Regions from separate parts of the Homo sapiens genome. Here region 2 is linked to region 1. Evidence: fine-mapped expression QTL. Tissue or cell type: fibroblasts. Region 1 holds a variant in brackets; the other region holds the start of a gene. All regions are shown on one strand. Distances are between the middles of the regions.

Region 1 (8,102 bases):
TATGGTGCCTGCAGCAATCATGTAACTCACAACCAAACACAATATAAAATGAGTGTGAGAAAGGTCTACAGAGTTCTGATTTATCAGTGAATATTTCTGTATGCTGCTGTGGGTAAATTCAACCATCCAATTATTTTACTCAGTTACATTGAACCCCATTATACTGAGTTGAAATTGAACTGTAATTTTAAAGTTGGGAGCTCTGCTGTCCAATCTGGTAGCCACTATCCACATGTGGCTATTTAAATTCAAATTTTATTCAATTAAAAATAAATACTCTTAAAAATTGTTCTTCAGTGGCATTGGCCACATGTCCAGTACTCAATAGCCATATGTGTCTAGTGATTTCTATATGAAACAGTGAAATGATAGACTATTTTCTTTATCACAGCAAGTTTTGTTGAGATAGATAGATGATTAATTGATAAATTATAGGCAGATAGATGATTGACAGATAGATAGACAGACAGAAGTAGATGTAGACATGGACATGTTTAAAGTGGTATACTGGAGTCTGCTGAGTCCTGCTCTCTAGAACCAATTGTTAAATATTCAAAAATTTTGTGAGATGGTTGCCAAATCTTGGTAGCTTGAAATTGACCATGGTTATCATTTTGCCACTGTCTTAGTAATAATGGTTTTGGTTAAAACCATCCATGGGTCATAAAACTAGTAGATACAAGACTGAAGATTGAAGTAGATTTACATGGTATCAGAGGTGTCCCCCATTAGTTACTTATGCATTTCAAAGGGAAAAATAAAACTTTGCAGTAGATTAACCTTGCGAACACACTTTCAAGTACTGCCAGTTAAAATCACCCTTACTGGGATAGTGTGCTTCCTGATCGGTATGTTTGATATAAATTTCCAAGTAGAGGTTCTCACTTGGTGGATCTGGAGGAGGCTGAGAACTGGCATTTGATCTCATGTAGGTGATCCACAAACCACTGACTGTCCTCCAAGCATTCTAGGTTTGCTTAGGGTTGCCCTTTCAGCCTGGAACATGGCTATACCTGTGGGCTTCTGGAAAGTGCCTCCAGCTACCATTTATAACATCTAAATGTGTGTTGTTCTGCTATGTGGCAAAAATTCTCATCTTCCTGGAATACTTCCTGCACATTTTCAGAACAAGGCCCTCCCTCTTAGTGTCCCCGCCAGTAGCCCTCAGAAGCACTCCTTGGTTACCTTTGTGGGACTCAGTTTCTTTCGAATTCTGGGAGTCAATCATCAGCTGAAGGAAATCTAGTCGGTGCTAGAAGCAAAAGGAGAGATTTCTTTGGCAGAAAGTGACTCGTGAAGTCAGAAGTAAATCAAAAGTGCAGTCCTCAACCTCCCTTCTTGACTTCCCTCCCTCAACCTCCCTATGGCTTCTTGAAGACGTGTTACCTGAGTCACCAGTGAACAAAAACATTCATCTAAATCCTTGGAAAGCAGGATGTTTTCCTGAAACAAATCTAGCTATCATGTCCAATTGCTTTTTCGCCTTTGCCCTCCCTGTTTCTCATCTTCTCTGTCTTTTGGATACAGCTTTCTGGCCAAAGAGTTGCCGGTTCCATCTCTGGTCATAACTGCTTACCCAGGAAGAAGTACTGGATCTTTTATTCTTCTACCTTTTTCTTCAGCAGTGTCCGTATAGATTAATCTCCTGACATTTCCAGAACTCATCAGCAGCTTTTTTGGGGGAGCATTTTCAAATATTCCAACATTCTCAAACTCTATATAATCTTCAGTGACAGCTGGGTTACCTGGTCCTGTCTCCCTGACCTGCAGACATCCTTCGGCTGGCCTCTAGGGCTCGTGAAGGCAAAGCTGAGTTAGCCAGCCTTGCAACCTCAATTCTCAGAGAAGACCCCTGTTCACTCCAGGCTGTGAAACACTCACATTTACCACACACTACATGTCAGCAGTCGGCAGGTAGCCTCATAGGACCTTTAATTGCAGAATATGTAAAATAAGAGTCTTGGACTTAAAATGATTCTTTACCAATCTGTGATATGAGGAAAGCACAATACCAGTAAAATATATTTTCAAACAGGAAACTTTATCCTTTGACAATTTATTAAAGGGAAGAGAAGTGGTAAAATTTTATCTCAATACTGTTTATATCATGACATACTAATTGTTGTGCCTGATTTCAAGTTTTAAATGCTATCTCTCTGACTCATTCTCATCTCCTTCCCCAATCTCCTTCTTTATTTCTACCAAATGGCTTCTCTTGTTCTAAACATAAGTTCTCTGTCTTTATTTTTAAAAATACAGATACATGCTCTATCATGTGTATAAAATCTAAATTTATCAAAACCTAAACATCGTCATTTAACCACCATCAGATTTTACCTTTTGTTTGTCGTTGAGGCGACTTTTCTTCATTCTGTTTACAGATTTACTTAAAAAATTTATGGTATCTTTTGGAAACAGAGAGACATTTAATGCTTCAAAAACTGGGGTAAGGAATGGAAAGAGTACTGTGGGAAAAACAAAACAAACAAAAGGAAATCATTGAAAATGCAAACTTTACCTGGAGCAATTATAATTTTCTCTACCAGTAATAAGAATAAGAACATCATGATTCTCAACTGGAACCCATTCCTTTTATCATGTTTGCCCTTCTTTCAGGCCGGCGACTGAGCAAGGGCAGGTCTATACATAGGAAACACCACTACAGCAGTGAGATCAATGGCACCTTCTGAGTCTTTGGAGTGACCAAAGTAATAGAATTAAATTCCCTGACCTCTTAGCCTTTATCTATTGGACTAGAGTTTTTGGATTAATGTAGACCATAATCTGCTGCTTAACTTAATCATGCTGTTCAGGAAATGATAGTCAAGATAGAATTAACACAGCATATGTACATCAACTTCCATGGAATAAAACTAGAAATCAATAAGGGAAAGAAATTTGGGAAACTCATACATTTGTGGAAGTTAAACAATACAGTTTTAAGTGACCAGTGAGTCAAAGCAGAAATCAAAAGGGCAACAAGAAATTGTTTTGAGATGAACAAAAAGAAGGCATGATGTACCAAAACACAGGATGTAGCCAAACCAGTGCTCAGAGGGAAATTTATAGCTGTAATATCTAAATTTAAAAGAAGAAAATATCTCAAATTGATTATAATTATTTACACCACAAAACACTAAAAGAAGAAGAGCAAATGAAACCTAAAGCCAGCAAAAGAAAGAAAATAACAGACTAAAATAAACTCATGAAATAGAGAATAAAAAACAACAGAGAAAAATCAATGATATTATTTCTATGAAGTGTCCAGAATAGGCAAATCTATAGAGGCAGAAAGTTGATTATTGGATGCTTAGGGCA[G/A]TGGGGTTTGTGGTGGGGTGTTGACAGCTAAAGTGTGTGAGGGCTCTAGATTGACAAAAACATTTTAGTTTACAATAGTAATGGTCATACATATTTTTGATTATCTTAAAAACAATGGAATTGTACCTTTTAAGTGGATGAATTATACGATATGTGAATTATATGTCAAGAAAGCAGTTATTTTTAAAAAGAGAGAAAGAAATAATAGCCCACATACTTATTGAGAGAAATAATGGATCTAAGAAACCAAATTTTAGGAACTTCTTAGTGCTCTCCACAAAGGGGTCTTGTGGATTGTTGAGAGAGTCGATGTTCACTCCAAATGATGTGCCAGTAATCACATCCATGCTGTAGGCCCCAAAGATGCTGAGTGGAGAAAGATATGGAAAATTAAAATCAGCACCTCTTACCGTCCTTCCACTATACATGCAGCAAGAAACCCACATATCCAGTCAAGACACATAAAGAGCCACAGACTTTCAGAACTATCTGCTGAATCATCTTCCATCTACTCCCTCAGAAGGTGGTTATCTGGTGCCAGTGATGGAGCTGGCCCTATGCTGGGGGTGATGGAGACACCAAGCTGAGTTAGACTCACCTCTGAGGTCAAGGAGCCCAGTCATAGGAAGACAGAGACCCATTATCAGACAACTACAGTAGCATGTGTTGAGTGTGGATGATATAAGATATGTAAGCTCTGTGCTTCAGCAGAACAAGAGTAGAATAATTAACTCTTCCTAGTGGATTCAAGAAAGGTGGCGTTGTCTGACTACAGACTCTATGCCCAGAGCCAATTCCTCTTCAACACTTTACAAAACAGTAACACCCTGTTCTGAGTTCCTAGAAATATCATCCTTTATTCTCTACACTCCCTGCTAATGCTCTGGAAAACCCCACTATCCCCAGCTCCTCTGACCTGAAGTTGCGCTGAGAGCAGAGTCATTTTTGTAAGATGTGACAATCAAGAATGTTCTGGTTAAAAAAAATAGATCTCTCCAACATTGATTTGGAGAACCCAAAACTGAGTGACCACATGTCCCAAGTCTGAACAGGACAGGCTCAGATTACACCTGTCGTTCCTGCATAATTGAAGCACATACCATTGTAGACAGCAAATAATAGGCTTGCTCTACACATAGCATTTCTAGCACCCTTTCTTTTTTGAGATTGGAGGAAAAGGAAGTAGTGGGAAGGTTTAATAGTTCATAGTTTGCTGATATTCTCAGAAAAACCATGAAGGGATTGAAATTGTTCCAAGTTCCCCATTGTAACTTTCCCATCTTACCCAATGCAAGGCAACAAGTACCAAATGCTTGCTTACCCACAGTTCCATATCCACTACACTCAAAACTTTGATACAATCATGTTTTTTTAATTTCTAAAGTATGTATTTAATCTCCCAGAATATTTATGGTGACAAGTTAACAGATAAGTAAATCCTGGCTCCTGTGCACAGGAGAGAAGGCCCTTTTCCCTTGCTGACTTGCCGCCTCATGGGAGCCACTCCCTCTTAGGTGGCTCTTTGGAGTTGCAGCGCTGCCCTGCTTTTGTCTGGTCACTGGAGTAACCCAACAGTGCGACTGTCGACTCCATGGCAGGCAGCTGGAAGGGCTCATGACAGCTCAGAACCCCATGGCTGTGCTCCTACTTACTCTTTCAAGGTGACAGGCTTGCCTTTCTCTGCTTCCCGCCTCAAGTTTCTCACCAATACATCTCCATACTGGGCAATGATGGGGAACATCTAAGCACAAAACAGATCAGTACCTGTAGTTAAATGTGCAGACTCAAGTCCCAGAAGGATATGGCTTTCTCCAGCATGGAGCAGTAAGTGACATTTTGTAATGAATTTTGTGATGTCTTTTCTGTACATAAAGATAAAAGACCATTTTTAGGAAGCTCGAACTCAGTGGACTACCCCTTGGAAACGGACTGTGATCTTACTTTCTACCTGTCCCCAGATTCATTCTTTACATTTCTAATTAAGACTCATCTTATTTTCATACCTCCTTGAGTTTTCCGCTGGTGAAGGTTGGAGACAGCAATGACCGTATTCTCTTCCATTCTTCATCCTCAGCTAAAGAGATGGCACTTTTCATAAATCCCACTGGGCCTAAAGACTAGAGTTCAACAGAAACATTTTTTCTCACATTAGTTGTGGTGATCTTCATGGTTGCACAAAATATATTGAAGAGGCATCCTTATTTAACAAATATTTATTGACTGTATATGATATTATGGCAAGCCATATTCAAGATGCTCAATGGAGATCCTAGATGCCTAGCCTCTTCTGAGTGTATGTGGGGCGGGGGTGGGAGTGGGGAGACCCAGCCATCTGGTGTGGTCTCCTGCCTCTATATCTCAGTCTCCTTTTAATTGCAAATGCTCCACGTGGTAGGGAACTGTTCTTCCAGTGGAATAGACAGGAACAAGACCTAGCCCTTCCCCAGGAGTGTGCAGAGTAGAAAAGGATTGGTGACAGATGGGCAGACTGTATGTTGCCTCAGACCAGCTCTGTCTTTAATACACCTACAGCATGGGCAACTTGAAAAAGGGATGCCATGATGTGGTGATTTTTTTTTGAAAAGTAGGTAATACTTAAAGACTAGAAACCTGTTTTGAAGGAATAATGCAATTTCCTTGAAAATTCTTTTCTCTTAATTTTTTATTCCATAAATAGAAGGAAAAAGAAAGGGATAATTACTTTTCCCAACTTGGGGCTGGACTATCAAGCCAGCATGCTTGGAACTTTCTCTTATCTTCCACAACTATGTTTTGTTTTAAAATGTGTACTTCCAGCTGTCATGATAAAATCTCAATAAACTAGGAAGAGAGAGACAGTTCCTTCATTTGATAAAGACAATCTGTAAAAAAATCATTCAGTTAAATCACATTTAATGATGAAGGACTGAATGGTTTTTCCAAGATCAAGAAGAACTAAAAAATGCCCACTCTCAACATTCTTACTAAAGAGCATACCTGATGTCTTAATACACTAGACAAGAAAAAGAAATAAAAGGCATACAGATTGGAAAGGAAATAATAGAATTGTCTCTATTTTCAGGTGACATAATTGTCAATGTATAAAATGTCAAGGAATATACAAAAAAATTTCTAGAACGAATAGGTAAGTTCTGCAAGGCTATAGGATACAAGATCAACAAACAAAATTATTCACATTTCTATGTAACAATAATCAATATCTGAAAATACAAGAAAAACAGTATCATTTACAGTTACTCCAACAAAAATGAAATATTTCTGGTGTAAATCTAACAAAAGATGTACAGGACCTCTATGCTGAAAACTATAAAATGTTGAGGAAAGTAATAAAAGCTAAAGAAATGGAGAGGCATACTATATTCACGGGATGAAAGGCTGAACATAGTAAAGATATAGATTATACCCAAATTGTTCTATTGGTTTAATTCAAGCTTGTCCAACTTGTGGCCTGCAGGCCTCATGCAGTCCAGGATGGCTTTGAATGTATCCCAATACAAATGTGGAAACTTTCTTAAAACATTTTGAGTTTTTTTGCAATTTTTTTTGTAATTTTGTAATTTGACTATGTGATTCTCAAGTGTGAACTTCGTAGACAACAATGGAATGGAAAGGGGTAATCAGAGTATGTCACATCCACAAATAATGGACTAGTATCCATAATTTGCATTATAATTGCAAACAGTTCAGCAAGAAGAAATTAAAAGCCATTAAAATTAACTAACAAAGAGCGAGAGGACGCTATTGCAGTGCCACGTGAAGTGAATTGTGACAAAGAATTCAAGTGTGTATTCTGGACAAGGCAGAGCGCTGCTGTACACCAGACACTGTCGCCATTTGTACGCATGTGTGGCTTCAGTTTTATGGTGGTGTGCGACTTCCAGTGTGTTATCTTCTAATCACGGACAGTTGAATTGACACTGTCAGGTATTAGGTGTGTTTGTGGCAATTTGGCAAGTAAAACCCAGCAATTATCAATAATATTTCAACCTACCTTTGTAGATGATAGGTGTTTAATATTATTTAGAAGACATGTAAGTATTCTTATTTGATTATTAAACCTTGCTTTCTGTTCTATTTTCCTATCTGTTAATTTCCATAATAAAAGTAAATATAGTTGCTTATCTATTATAATGCTTTTAATTCCAGAATGGCTTCCACAATGTCTTAAAAAGAAAACCCTAAAAAACAAAAATTATGGATGAAGGAAGATTGTTCAATGAAAAGTGGACAAATGACTTTTTCTTGTTGAGGCAAATAGCGAAGCACTCTGCTTAATTTCCACGGAATTTGTGCCAGTTTTCAAAGACTACAATTTGAAGAGGCATTATATGCAAAAACGTGCTGACAAATTTGGTGTGTATGTGTTGTAAGGACAAAATAGCAGAACTGAAAAAAAGTCTGTCTTTTCAACAAAAAAGATTTTTTAAAAAGTTACAACTCGGACTCAATCGTAAGGTAAAACCTAGTTATGTGGTAGCAAATTTAATAGCAAAAAAATCAAAACCATTTACTGATGGTGAGTTTATTAAGCAATGTCTGGAAGATGTGGTAGATATTATTTGCCTTGAGAAACTGATATTTCTAAAATCAGTTTGTCTCACCAGACTATAGCCAGGAGAATTGGAGAAATTGGGAAATCTATTGAAAGACGTTTGGAGAGTAAAACTGCTAATTTAAAATTTTATGCTTTGGTGATGGATGAAGGCACTGACACTACAGATACGGCACAACTTGCTATTTTTATTAGAGGTATTGATGATGAATATAATGTCACTGAAGAAATC
Region 2 (8,102 bases), 980 kb after region 1:
GCAGGAGAATCGCTTGAACCCGGGAGGCGGAGTTTGCAGTGAGCCAAGATCGTGCCATTGCTCTCCAGCCTGGGCAACAAGAGTGAAACTCTGTCTCACAAAAAAAAAGAAAAAAACAAAAAACAAACAAAAAAATCATAAATTAGCTGGGCATGGTGGCTCACGCCTGTAGTCCCAGCTACTTGGGAAGCTGAGGCACAAAAATCACCTGAAGCCGGGAGGCGGAGGTTACAGTGAGCTAAGATCATGCCACTGTACTCCAGCTTGGGCAACAGAGTGAGAATTGGTTGCAAATATATAAAAATAAATAAATCCTGTCCCTAAATAATAATAATAATTTTGAAAAAAGAAAAATGAAAAATTAGCTGGGCGTGGTGGCCCCTCCCTGTAGACCCAGCTACTCAGGAGGCTGAGATGGGAGAATCACCTGAGCTTGGGAAATCGAGGCTGCAGTGAGCCCAGATTGCACCACTGCATTCTAGCCTAGGTGACAGAGCAAGGCCCTGTCTCAAAAAAAAATTAATGTAATTTAATTTTTTTTTTTTTGAGATGGAGTTTCACTCTTGTTGCCCAGGCTGGAGTGCAATGGCACGACGTTGACTCACCGCAACCTCCGCCTCCTGGGTTTAAGCGATTCTCCTGCTTCAGCCTCCCGAGTAGCTGGGATTACAGGCATGCGCCACTACGCCCGGCTAATTTTGTATTTGTTTTGTTTTTTTGAGACAGAGTCTTGCTCTGTCGCCCAGGCTGGAGTGCAGTGGCGCGATCTCGGTTCACTGCAAGCTCCGCCTCCCGGGTTCATGCCATTCTCCTGCCTCAGCCTCCCAAGTAGCTGGGACTATAGGTGCCCGCCACCACGCCCAGCTAATTTTTTGTGTTTTTAGTAGAAACGGGGTTTCACCATGTTAGCCAGGATAGTCTCGATCTCCTGACCTCATGATCTGCCCACCTCGGCCTCCCAAAGTGCTGGGATTACAGGTGTGAGCCACCATGCCTGACCTGTAATTTAATTTAAAAGCCCTGAGCAGGCTGGGTGCGGTACCTCATTCCTATAATCCCAGCATTTTGGGAGGCTGAGGTGGGAGGATTGTTTGAGGCCAGTAGTTTGAGACCATCCTGGGCAACATAGGGAGACCTCGTTTCTACTAAAAAAAATTAAAAATTAGGCTGGGCATGGTGGCTCATGCCTGTAATCCCTGCACTTTGGGAGGCCGTGGTGGGTGGATCATCTGAGGTCAGGAGTTTGAGACCAGTCTGCCCAACATGGTGAAACCCCGTCTCTACTAAAAATACAAAAAATTGGTTGGGTGTGGTGGCAGGCACCTGTGATCCCAGCTACTCGGGAGGCTAAGGCAGGAGAATTGCTTGAACCTGGGAGGTGGAGGTTGCCATGAGCCGAGATCGCACCACTGCACTCCAGCCTGGGCAACAGTGAAACTCTGTCTCAAAAAAAGTAAAAAAAAAAAAAATAGCCGGGCATAGTGGCACACATCTGTAGTCCTAGCTACTTGAAAGGCTAAGGTGGGAGGATCACTTGGGTCCAGGAGTTGGAGGCTGCAGTGAGCTATCATCTCGGCACTGTCTGGGTGACAGTGAGGCCCTATCTCAAAAAAATAAAGCCCTGAACATTGTTGATTCCACAGACTCAAGGTCTTTCAGCAGGTGAATCCAGCAACATATCAAAAGAGTAATCATACACCTTGATCAAGGTTAGCGTTGAGCTCAGGAAGATAAGGAAATCTATTAACACAAATTACTATATAAACATTAAAGAAGAGGCTGGGTGCTGTGGCTCATGCCTGTAATCCCAGCACTTTGGGAAGCCGAAGCGCTTTGGCAGATCGCTTGAGCTTACGAGTTGGAGACCAACCTGGGCAACATGGCAAAACCCTGTCTCTACTAAAAAATACAAAAATTAATCAAGCGTGATGGCACACACCTGTAATCCCAGCTACTCAGGAGGCTGAGGCATGAGAATCGCGTGAACCTGGGAGGCGGAGGCTGCAGTGAGCCAAGATTGCACCACTGCACTCCAGCCTGGGTGATAAGAGGGAGACTCCGTCTCAAAAAATCAATCAATCAATAAAAGTCTCAGTGAGCTAGGAGTGAAAGGAAACTTCCTTAATTCAATTTTAAAAAGCTGTCTGGAGCACAGCAAAGTTCATTGTCAATGGCAAAGTATTATAAAAGCATTGCTATTAAAGTCAGGAAATAGGCAAGGATACCTACTGCCACGGTTACCTTAAATTCATGTCCTCTCAAATGCAATGAGAAATGAAAAAAAAAAAAACGTAGAAGGTATAAGCATTGGAAAAGAGAATCTCCATCTCCTACTATCTGTAGCTTAGCTGATTACCTACTTAGAAAACCCAGGCGAATCCACTGAAAAATTACTCCCGTCCCAAAAGAGGGCTATGGGTGGACCTAGCTTTTGGATCTGCACCCACAAATGCATTTGCTTACTTGTTTTTCTTTTTTTCTTTTCTTTTTTTTTTTTTTTGAGATGGAGTCTCGCTCTGTTGCCCAGGCTGAAGTGCAGTGGCGTGATCTCGGCTCAATGCATGCTCCACCTCCTGGGTTCAAGCCATTCTCCTGCCTCAGCCTCCCGAATAGCTGGGACTAGAGGCGCCCGCCACCATGCCCGGCTAATATTTTGTGTTTTTAGTACAGACGGGGTTTCACCGTGTTAGCCAAGATGGTCTCGATATCCTGACCTAGTGATCTGCCCGCCTCCGCCTCCCAAAGTGCTGGGATTACAGGCCTGAGCCACCGCACCCTGCCGTTATTTTGTTTTTGAAACAGGGTCTCGCTCTGTCTCCCAGGCTGGAGTGCAGTGGCATAATCTCGGCTCACTGCAACCTCCGCCTCCCCGGCTCAGGCAATCCTCCCCCGTCAAGCTCCCAAGTAACTGGGACTACAGGCACTCGCCATCATCCCCAGCTAATTTTTGTGTTTTCTTTGGTAGAGACGGGGTTTCATCGTATTGCCCAGGCTTGCTTGCTTGGTTTTCTGATTCCCTAGAATGCGGCTTCTCAGAACCCCTCAGCGCTCCCTGCTCCAAATCTAGGCGCCTGGGTGAGGCATTCAAGGCTTTTCTGGGTCTGTCCAGTCTGATACTGGATGCTGCACCCCTCTGATCTCAGACAGTCAGCTCCCTCACCTCCCAAATATGCCACCCTCAGAGCCTCAGTCCCCTGGAACCTCAGCTCCGAATGCCTGCCATCCTTCCCAGGACCGCTGAACAGGGGGGCCAGGAAGGCAGATGGGAGGACTCAGGAGGGGGACCCAGACACCAGAGGCCTGGGCCAGGAGGCAGGGAGGCCCAGTCTGAGCGGATGAGGGGAGGGACACTCGAGAACAGGATGGGGCAGGGCCATCCCTACCTGATGGTGTCCTCCAGGCGCCCCTCCCCCAGGAACTGCAGGAACATGGCCTGGAGGTCGCTCCAGTAGAGTCTGCCCTGGTGGAAATCCAGGTCAGGCTCATAGTTGACATCCTCACTGACCACCAACACAGAGTCTCCGCACGCCTGGCAGGACCCTCGGAAGGCGACGTAGCCCAGTAGGAAGGCTGGCGGGTGGCAAGATGGGGATTCTCTTTATGCCCACCTCTGGACCCCAGAAATCTCCCCCAGCCCAAGCCCTTCACTTCTGGGGAGGGGGACGGCTCTCACCCCCAGTGAAGATCAGCAGGGCCGTCAGGACCAGGTAGGGGGCAGCCCTCCGTCCTGCTGCCGCCCAGGGAATGAGGTTTGGCTGCCTGGGTCTAGAGCCCAGGGGCTCAGGGCCCCTCAGCTCCATGGGGCAGAAGTGGGCCAATGTCTCCGCCCCCTCCTCCCCGTCTTCCTCTTCCTCCTCCAGGTGCCCTTTCCGGGGGCCTTCCACACGCTGGTAGACGGTCTGAGAGGATCTTGGGGACAGTTGTTGCTGTGCAGGCGAGGTGGGCATGAGATTGGGGCAAGAGGCCTGGGGGGTGGGGAGGCATCTGGCAATAATGAGGTCAGTGACTTGGGGGTGTCAAATGAGCATGGTGGTGGGGGCGTGGGGGAGGGGCAGGGGTGGGAAGAAGCGAGGTCAGGACACGGTCCAGGAGGGGCCAGCCTCAGGGGCTTGGGAGGGGGCTGAGGGACTTAGAGAGAAGGCCTAAGGGGTCTTCCCAATCCCACTAGTCTTACCGCTCTCTGGAATAGACCCCAAAGCCGCTCCATGCTTGTGTCCCCTCCTGAAGCCTGCAGGCTGTCCCCCAGCGATAAACCGATAAACCGTTTGTGGGAGCCCTAGGAGGGCCCCTTATCAGTCCTGGCAGGCAGCCTGAACCAAGGCTGCTCCTCACCACCCCCAAGGGTGGGGGCACAGTCCTGGCCTCAGTCCAGCCTTCCAGACGTGGCCCCCGGGTCCAGGCCAGAGCACAAGGGGCTGTGCTCTCCCCTGCCAATCTCTCCACAGCCCCACGCCTGCCTCCTCCCTGCAAAACAATCAATTTTTTGACCTTGGGGCGGACTTTGGCCTCCTAGTTCCCATCAGGGGTGGGGGAAGGGGGCCGATAGTGGGGGAGGGCAGAGACATGGGTGCCCCCTCCCCTCTCCTGCTTTTACCCCTCCCTGGATCCTGGGGACCCCTTCCTAAGCCCCGCCATGCCCAGGTGGAAGATTCACCCCTAAGACATCTGCCCCTTCCTCATCTGGCCTTCAGAGTCCCCCAGTGCCCCGGTCCTGTGACATATCAGCTGTCCTCCCTGTCCTGACACTTGCCCCAGTGGCATTCTAAGCTGGAGGCACCACAGTGGTGTGACTTGGGGGTCTGGTCTGGTGGTGTGCATGTGTGTCTCTTTTGAAAGGTCGTTCTCAGACTCCTGCTGGCTGCTGGAGAAGGAGGGGCACAGGTGGGAGCACATGGTCAGATGAGACCAGCGAGAGCTCCCAGATAGGGGTCCTGGGGTCAGGGATATGTGGGTCAGTGGGGAGGAGTGATCAGAGTCCCCGCCAAGGTGTGGGCAGAGCTGGGTGACCCTGGACAAGTCATGGTCCTCCCTGGGCACCGGCCCGTTTGGTCACCGAAGGACTTGGATCACATGGGTTTCTACCTCTTTGGGTTCTGAGGCTGATGAAAGGCCAGTTAGCCTCACCCCAGAAACATGTCACAGGCATAAACTGCTAAACAGGCAGGGGGCGCAGGTCCCCAAACCCTTCCGAGGGCCCCAAGACAAGTAGCTCTGAAGAGGAGGGCTCAGGGTCCCACCAAGTTTCCCTTTCGGGTTTCCCCTGGGAAACATCAGCTCCTACTCAGGTCCAGAGAAGTTCCGAGCTGCTGGGATGCACCAGCGCCCTAGTCCCCGCCCCATGTCTGTCACCACCAAGAGCCCCAGGAAGGAAGGCATAGCGCATCTCACCTGAGCGCAGGTCCTGGGGTGCTCAGGCGTGCTGCTCCCCTGAGACCTAAGGCCTACGCTGAGGCCCCGCCCACCAGGCCCCACCTCCTGTTCCGCCCATCCAGGCTTCACCTCCTGCTCCACCCACCTCCTGCCACACTCACCCCAGGCCGTGCCCCTCCACTGCACCCTGCAGCCCCTCCCACCTCCCACCACAACTGTTAGCCCCCAGCAACTCCCCCAACCCCCGGTCCTCGTCATGTGGCCCTCCCTGGGTCACAACCCCTAGGAAACCTGAGGAATCCATGGCCCCTGGGGCTGTGTCCCAGCACCCACTGTGGGATCGGCATGGGTGTAGAAGTGAGACTCCCTCCCCTCACCTCCCTCCAGACCCCTGTGCCCACTCCCCACCCCACGGAGGCCAAACTTTTTTTTCTTAAAACATTTTTACTTCTTTCAACCCAGAAACATCACCATTAATGAGGACAAGAGGGAAAGGAGGAGGGGGGCAATGTGGCATGGGGGTTAAGGGACTTCCATCTGAGCTTGGGAGCAGGTGTGTGGGGAGGAGTGCCATCAGGGGCACTTTCGCTCCACGCACTGCTTCCCGCCCTCCTCATATTCCTGCTTGGAGATCCACATCTGCTGGAAAGTGCCCTGGGTGGAGGGGGTAATATCAGGGTCAGGGTGGCCTTGGAGGGAGGTGTGGACAGGCAGGTGCAGCCCCTGGGAATCCTCCAACAGGCCCCAACCACCCCTTGGGTTCACATCCCTCTGAAGCCCCTCCCCACCTCATCCTCCCCTCCTCGGTCTGTCCCCTTTCATATTCAGAGGGAGAGTATCCTCTTCATATCATTCAATCAATAATTCATTCATTCAACAAGTATTATTGAACAGCAGTCTCTGCCCTGAGCTAGGCCCTGTTCCTGAGCTGGGGGGATGGCACGCACAGCCCCAGGCCAGGCAACCTGCACCTGGCACTCAACACCCCCTACACACACACAGTCCTTCCCCACCAGGTGTCCTCTTCTCACTCCATCAGGGCTTTGGAACACCGCCAGTCTCCCTCTTTCCCAAGGAAGATATTCCCTCCACCTCACCATTCCAACACTGTGGCACCCCATCTGCAGCCTTCGGCATTACAACTTGCCCCTTGAGGGTTCCTGCAATGAGCATCTCAGAGTGTCCCTTCTCTCTATTTTTTTAAAATTTTAATTTTAATTATTTTTATTTTTATTTTATTTTTTTGAGATGGAGTCTTGCTCTGTCGCCCAGGCTGGAATGCAGTGGTGCGATCTTGGCTCACTGCAGCCTCCGCCTCCCAGGTTCCAGCGATTCTCCTGCTTCAGCCTGCTGGGTAGCTGGGATTACAGGCGCGTGCCAACACGCCCGGCTAATTTTTGTATTTTTAGTAGAGACAGGGTTTCGCCATGTTGGCCAAGCTGGTCTCAAACTCCTGACCTCAGATGATCCGCCCGCCTCGGCCTCCCAAAGTGCTGGGATTACAAGCGTGAGCCACCGCGCCCAGCCTAATTTTTATTTTTTGTAGAGATGGTGTCTCACTATGTTGCCCAGCCTGGTCTCAAACTCCTGGGCTCAAGTAATCGTTCCACCTCAGCCTCCCATAATGTTGGGATTACAGGCGTGAGCTACCACGGCTGGGCTTCTTTGATCTTTCTCAGCCTACACACATGTGCTGTCCAATGCAGTGGCCACTAGCTTCCTGTAGCTCACCAGCCCTGGTCCAAATTGAGACGTGCTCTAAGTGGAAAATACACACCCAATTTTTTTGGGTTTTTTTTGAGACAGGATCTTGCTCTGTCACCCAGGTTGGAATGCAGTGGCACAGCTCACTGCAGCCTCAACCTTCCAGGTTCCAGTGATCCTCCAACCTTGGCCTCCCAAGTAGGTGGGACTACAGGTATGCGCCACATTGCCAGTTGCTTTTTAAATTTTTTGTAGAGATGAGGTCTCGCTTTGTTGCCCAGGCTGGTCTAGAAATTTTGGGCTCAAATGATCCTCCCGCCTTGGCCTCTCAAAGTGCTGGGATTACAGGTGTGAGCCACTCCACTTGTCCAGGATATATTATTAATACTTAATTTCAGGCCGGGCATGGTGGCTCACACCTGTAATCCCAGCACTTTGGGAGGCCAAGATGGGCAGATCACTTGAGGTCAGGAGTTTGAGACAAGCTTAGCCAACACGGTGAAACCCCATCTCTATTAACAATCCAAAAATTAGCCAGGCGTGGTGGCTCACGCATGTAATCCCAGCTACTCGGGAGGCTGAGGCAGAAGAATCGCTTGAACCCAGGAGATGGAGGTTGCAGTGAGCCAAGATTGCTCCACTGCACTCCAGCCTGGGCGACAGTGAGACTGTCTCGAAAACAAAAACAAAAACAAAAAAAGGAAAAAAACAAGAACTGTGTGGCTGACATGCTTCAGCCCTGAGCTAAGTTCAGACTGCCAGCCTCTGTCTTTCTGACCCTGGTTTCTGTCTCCCTGGGGGACTTCCTTTCTCGTGGATGTCCTCCTTGTCTGTCATGGCCCCACTGTCCCCTCTGTGTGACTGATACCCTCCAGATGCGGGTTGCAACTCCAGCTCCCTGCTCAGTACCTTCCTTCGAACCCAGCAGCAGGTCCAGACTGAACTTACCACCTCCTGCCCCAGAACCAACCTGCCTGCCTCCTTTACTAGTTGCCCCTTGCTGTCCACCCCATCCCCACTGCTACCCA

The links. PIP is the estimated chance that this variant, and not a neighbour inherited with it, causes the effect.
Region 2: TFR2 starts here. The variant in region 1 is the best candidate, but not a certain one, in a credible set for the expression of TFR2 in fibroblasts (GTEx, PIP 0.60).

Annotation. Positions count from the first base shown.
Region 1 is chr7:99,661,631-99,669,732 of GRCh38, forward strand. CYP3A5 (cytochrome P450 family 3 subfamily A member 5) reads right to left here. Exons shown (of 13, transcript NM_000777.5): 5 at 5,322-5,435; 6 at 4,971-5,059; 7 at 3,536-3,684; 8 at 2,338-2,465; 9 at 1,186-1,252. It also overlaps a transcript of ZSCAN25 not described here. Among named protein-coding and RNA genes, the nearest start is that of CYP3A5, 14 kb to the right of the region's middle. The variant G/A (reference allele first, on the strand shown) is at 3,319.
Region 2 is chr7:100,637,303-100,645,404 of GRCh38, forward strand. It overlaps TFR2 (transferrin receptor 2), which reads right to left and starts at 4,250. Exons shown (of 18, transcript NM_003227.4): 1 at 4,175-4,250; 2 at 3,674-3,926; 3 at 3,384-3,570. The coding sequence starts at 4,207. ACTL6B (actin like 6B) reads right to left here. Exons shown (of 14, transcript NM_016188.5): 14 at 5,795-6,024. The coding sequence ends at 5,944.